2 separate regions of the Homo sapiens genome follow, and region 1 is linked to region 2. Evidence: fine-mapped QTL for protein levels in blood plasma. Region 2 holds a variant in brackets. A gene starts in the other region. All regions are shown on their forward strands.

Region 1 (2,912 bases), not on the chromosome of region 2:
TGAAGACGCTGTGCAAATTGTACAGCGCTCTGCTTAAGGAGAACCTCGATCTTCATCTCGCCCCCAGAACTTCCCTCCCTTGAAAATAAAACTCCCACCTGAATGTAAAGCCCAGGAGGGGGTTTTGTTAACCGCACTTATTCCCAAAGCATAAAGGAATGTCTAATAGTTTTGCAAATGCTTCCATGAATAATTGTTGAATGAGTTCATGTACAACATACACACTTGAGGAAAACTGGTCTGGTTGGGAACATCTGGGAATTCTCCTTGCTTTTCTGGTAGGGAAGCGACCGACCAAACATTTATTGGGCACTACTCCTTGCCAAGCCTTCTAGGCTTTGGCAGGCCAATGGGGAGCCGGGGGGAGGGCTGGCAAACCTGTTAGTTGTTCAAGGACACAAAGGGGGCTTTATAAGATGGCCTAATCAGAGCCCTTAAACGTGGGTTCGCAAAATGGTTCATTCCCGCCCTTTCACCCACCCCCTCCCACCCCAGACGCAAAGCATATGTTAAAAACACTTAAGTGCATACAGAAGGCGCTTGGCTCAGGGTACACAGGGCAAGAAGCCTCGGATCCCAGCTCCCTTTAACACACATTTTTTCAACGCCGTTCTGGACCGAGACTGTCCGGGGCACTGGGTGCTGCAGGACCCGGCTCCCAGTACTCCTAGCAGAAGACCCTCTGATGAAATGGCCCATGACAAAATGACCACCATAACCGTTCCTTCAGTAAGCCAGGTAGACGTGCTCACAGCTTGCTGGGAAGTCTTCTTTCGGAGATTTCTGCAGTTTTCTCCTTCACCTTACAGCCTAACAAAGGGTGGGCCGGGGGTCGGCTAGGACAGAAAGCAGCGGGAAAAGCGGCTCCACGTGTTCCATCTCTGGCCTCGGCCTTCAGCCCCCAGGTTCGGTAACCACTGGGCGTGGCGAGTCCGGGTAACCCGCAGTCCCTCGCGCCCGTCCAGGTGCGGGTTGCTCCGGTAGCCGGACTCCCTTTTCCTATATACTTTCCTTTTGAGCTTTTGCTAAAATCTGGAGACGTGGAATCCACCCGCGGAAACTCCGAGCCCCTCCGACTGAGCATGCGCCATCGCCAGGCGGCTTTTGGTCACAGGCTCCCGAGTTCTCCTAGCTGGGGCTGCGGAGCTGGGGGGAGGGAAGAGAGGAAAGGGGAGGGGGTGCCTGGAGAGGCGGAGGCTCGCGCGCCTGCGCATCCAGCTCCAGGGACCCTAGGTTTTCTATGGGATTCCCAATCTGCAGCAGAGATTTACCCGAGCGTGTTGCGGCAGCGGCTGGGCTTGCAAGGCGCGATCCAAGAGGGATTTAAGCAGCCCAGAGCTCCAGAGAAAAAGAGAGCGAGAGAGAACCACACACAGAGACGGCTTAAGCGTTTACCCGAATTAAATATATATTTTTAAAAAGAACTGTTGAGTTTTATCATTTTCGTTAAGTGACCGTGCGCAGCGCTGTAACTGTAAGTGGAAAATACAATCTTCGTTGCATTTCTGCATGTGTAGTGCAACCAACTGTCAGAGAAATGCTTTGGCTATTGTCACATACTTTGCTTTGCATAGATGCGTCTAAATGCATGGGGACAATTTCCTTGCTTAATGCTGGCGATCTGAATGTGCTCTTAGTCCATGGGGGATCTTTTGGAATATTGGGGGTGGGGGAAGGGGGAGTGTTTATATGCGGCGTGTTTGGGGGATTGTCTTAGACTAGATTTAAGACAGGTGAAACTGAGATGCTTTCTTAGTTTGTCTTAGACAGATTTAAGTAGCTAATTGACCGATTGTGAAGTTTTCCGGTTGCTGATAAAACTATTGAGCGGGTACAGTCGAGTAGCAACCTGTCATCCGTGGGATTGGTGCACCATTTTTCTCACTGTGGAAGGGCAGCAAAGGTGTTTGCTAAGTAAAACTGAGTGGATGAGATTGGTATGGAAATCATGGTTGATCTCTGAGCGGGATGTTAGTGTTTAAGATCCACGGAGTCAGGCGCAAAATGAGCACATTTCTCTCAGTATTCAGAAATGAGTAGATAATTTTTTTCGTCTTTGATTTTTGTCACAATGGTGAATGGGCAGAAAAGGGAAAGATGCTCTACTGCACTGTCGATTTTGAACGGAGTCACAGGCTCGGTCGCTGAATGGGGACTGTCAGACCCAAACTAGTTACCTGCCTTTGCATTCCGTGTTCGCCATCCGGAATCTGGGGTTAAAAAATGTAAATCAAGGTGTGTTACATTTGGTAGTATTTCTTTAAAGGATAAAAGGTCGTTTTGTGTTTTGAGTTAAAATGGGTTGTTCCTTGCCCAGAAACTGGAAGAAGGGTCTTTGCAAGGTCAAACCCCGGGTGGAAATCAGAATGATGAATACCCTCAGGGGTACAAGAATGTGTACGTGGAAGGAGCGAGGAGAGGCTGATGCTCCCTGCATGGTGGAAATGATGAGTGCTCCGCATTGCCTGATCAGTGCCCTGTGAGATGCCAGAGTGGGAATCCATTTTTCTAGAGTTGCCCTCCTGTCCGTATTTTGGAAACTAAAATAAAATAGAATTGTTGGTGGTTGTGGAGAACACTAAGTACATACTATTTGTGTATCACTTTCCAGTTGAAGGCAAGAAAAGCTGGGGAGTTTTATTTCTACATATTAATATTTATTTTAATTTCTAAAGGAATTTCAGGTTGAGACAAATTTAAAATGAAACTCTTGTGAAAACACATTTTACCCCCACTATCATTTAAACTGCCTACGTGTGTTTGTGTGTGTGTGGTGGGGGGGAGTAGGGGGTGATCCTACATCATTGAACAACTTACTTTTGAATGCACTCTCATTAAGCCTTGGGTATTTAATAACCCCAGAAAATGCTGCACTGAAGCAGGTTGGCAGAATGGGCATGAGGCAGAAAGAT
Region 2 (2,912 bases):
TATAGATGTTTGAAAGTGGTCACAGGTACATAGTTAAACCAAAGTATAGAGTTTGTTTGCTGAACCTTCACCCTCATTATGTTTTCTGCACGATAAACATGGATGTGGTACGGCCCTTCCTTTCACCCAGACATTTGTTGAGCCTAGTATTAGTGCGTACATCTGGAGTCCCCATCTCCATCATGGCAGATTTCTGGATCTCTCTTGAGTGCCTGAGGGGTATTCTTCTTGAAGCCCACTCCATGGATGCACCTGTGAATGTTGATGGTGTATCCTCAGGTCACTGCCTCATTGATGGCAGAATGACCCCCCTTTTTCTGGCTACCCTTTTTGCAGGAGTCATTCTGCTGGGCCCAAGTGGGAAGCCATTATATCCTCTATTACCTACCTTTCAGTTTAAGAAAATATTACTGTGATAGGCTGAAAAATGCTCTTCCAAAGCTACCAGGTCCTCATCTCTGAAGCCTGGAAATGTTCAGTTTGGAAAAAATGTCATAGCAGATATGATTGAGTTAAGGCTTTTTTTTTTCCTTTGTGACAGAGTCTCACTCTGATGCCCAGGCTGGAGTGCAGTGGTGCAGTGATGCAGTGGCTCACTGCAACCTCCGCCTCCTGGGTTCAAGCAATTCTCCTGCCTCAGCCTCCTGAGTAGCTGGGATTACAGGCGCGTGCCACCAAGCCCAGCTAATTTTTGTATTTTTAGTAGAGATGGGGTTTCGCAATGTTGGCCAGGCTGGTCTCAAACTTCTGACCTCAAGTGATCCACCTGCCTCAGACTCCTAAAGTTCTGGGATTACAGGCGTGAGCCACCGCACACAGCCGAGTTAGACTTTTGAAGTAGGGAGATTATCCTGGATTATCCAGGTGGGCCCTAAATGTAATTACATGTATTCTTTTGGAGACAGGCAGAAGATTTCACACTTGACACACACACAAACACACACACACACACACACACACACACACACACAGGCCCTGTGAAGACAAGCAGATTTGAAGATTGGAGTGTTGTGGCCACAAACCAAGGAATGCCAGCAGCCACCAAAATACCAAAAGTTGGAAGAGGTAAGGAACAGATTCTCCCCTAGAGCCTTCACAGCCCTGCCCACACCTTCATTTCGGCCCAGTGATACTGATTTTGGACTTCTGGCCTCCAGAACTATGAGAGAATACATTTCAGGTGCTTTAAACCACTGAGTTTGTGGTCATTTGCTACAGCAGCCACAGAAACTAATGCAGTTACCCATGCAATGAAAGCCACTGGTGTTCCTCTACTGAAATGCCGCCCTCTCTCTCCACTCTCCGGAGGGAACCAGGACCTTGAATTTGGTGTTTATTATTTCCTGCATTTCATTTTACTTTATTGCATATTTATGTATTCTGAAATAATGTCGTTTTATATATTTCATACTGTATCCTGTATATTGCTTTTTGCCCAACGTATTTTATAGATTATATATGTTGATACATGTAGCTCTAATTTTCTCTGTAGCATAGTATTCCATGGTGTGTATGCGTACCTGCACATATGTGTGCATGCTACAATTTTTTTTTTTTGAGACAGAGTTTCCCTCTGT[C/T]GCCCAGGCTGGAGTGCAGTGGCGCCATCTTGGCTCACTGCAAACTCCACCTCCCAGATTCCAGTGATTCTCGTGCCTCAGCCTCCCAAGTAGCTGGGATTACAGGTGTGCGCCACCATGCCCAGCTAATTTTTGTATTTTTAGTAGAGACGGGGTTTCACCATGTTGGCCAGGCTGGTCTCAAACTCCTGGCCTCAAGTAAACTGCCCACCTCGGCCTCTCAAAGTGCTGGGATTATAGGCGTGAGCCACTGTACCCAGCCCACAATTTTTAAATCAGTTCTTCTGTTAATGAACATTTAGGTTGTTTTTGGTTTTTCTGTCTTTCAAACAGTGCTGCAGTGAACATTTCCGTATGTATCTTCTTGTGCTTATGTGCAGAAGTGTTTCTAGGATATTTACCAGAGAAGAGAATTACTAGGTCATCCTCAGCTTTACTAGTTTTTGCCAAATTGCTCTGCGAAAGAGCAGATGTGGGTTGGATTTTGGCAGCAGGACATTTCAACAAAAGGAGTGATGTGTACTAAAGGTACAGACAGGGGAGGCATGGGAAGTGGTCATTAGTTTTCTTTGAAAAAGCAGTGGTTCTCAGTCAAGTCAGGGAAGCAGGTTTGAATCACCCTGGAGAATGTTTTGCAACCTTTTGCCCTCTGTCTCCCCATCCTGGGATGTCTTCCCAAGGAACCAATATATTTCCCCCCCGGGTAATTGCGACATGCTTTGGTTGAAAACCAAAAATGGCTGCCTGAGAAGGAGCCACGGGAGAAGAGGCAGGCAAGTTGGGTGGCGAGGACTGAGATACCCAGCCAGGAGGATGCATGTCAATCAGGGGTCACAGAGAGTCTCTAAGCAGAAGCTGAGCACCTTCCCCTCTACAGATACCCAGAGGCAGCATTAGGGCTACAGCACCCGTAGACCAAGAGCTCTGGGGTAGAGTTTAACCACATGTATTACGCTCAGCTTTGATAGCTCTTTTCTCAAGTCTTCCAACCTTGTTCACTGAGAGAGTCACTTTATAATGCAATGAGCTGTTGTTCCTCCTGGATCTCTGGGTGTACTGAAGATGCTGAAGGTTGGCTTTTTAATATTTTAATTATAATTAGCATACTAGGAAAACTCCGGGGAATAAAATACAGTACTTTCTTGCATTTATAGACTATAATATGGAATATGAGTAAAATATACATATCCCCAAGGAACCAGATATACATCAAAATAATTAAGTGGGGGCATAGCTTGGGGGTAGAACATTTGACTGCAAAATAACATATACATTGGTAAGGTTTAGAAAGACACAAAACAATCTACAGGGTTGGTCTTATAAATAAGTCTGTGG

Direction of the effects. Positions count from the first base shown, and alleles are read on the strand shown. Strength reflects both the effect of a copy and how common the allele is.
With allele C in place of T in region 2, the plasma level of the protein whose gene starts at base 1,252 in region 1 is lower (strong association).

What was found. PIP is the chance, under the fine-mapping model, that this variant and not a neighbour inherited with it causes the effect. The UK Biobank Pharma Proteomics Project read protein levels with antibody pairs (Olink). The fine-mapping took linkage between variants from a reference panel, not from the people measured, so its PIPs are less certain.
Region 1: it holds the start of VSNL1, and the variant in region 2 is fine-mapped to the plasma level of the VSNL1 protein (UK Biobank, PIP above 0.99).

Annotation. Positions count from the first base shown.
Region 1 is chr2:17,539,445-17,542,356 of GRCh38, forward strand. VSNL1 (visinin like 1) reads left to right here and starts at 1,252. Exons shown (of 4, transcript NM_003385.5): 1 at 1,252-1,474.
Region 2 is chr3:195,561,238-195,564,149 of GRCh38, forward strand. It overlaps the pseudogene RPL31P64. Among named protein-coding and RNA genes, the nearest start is that of PPP1R2, 19 kb to the left of the region's middle. The variant C/T (reference allele first, on the strand shown) is at 1,578.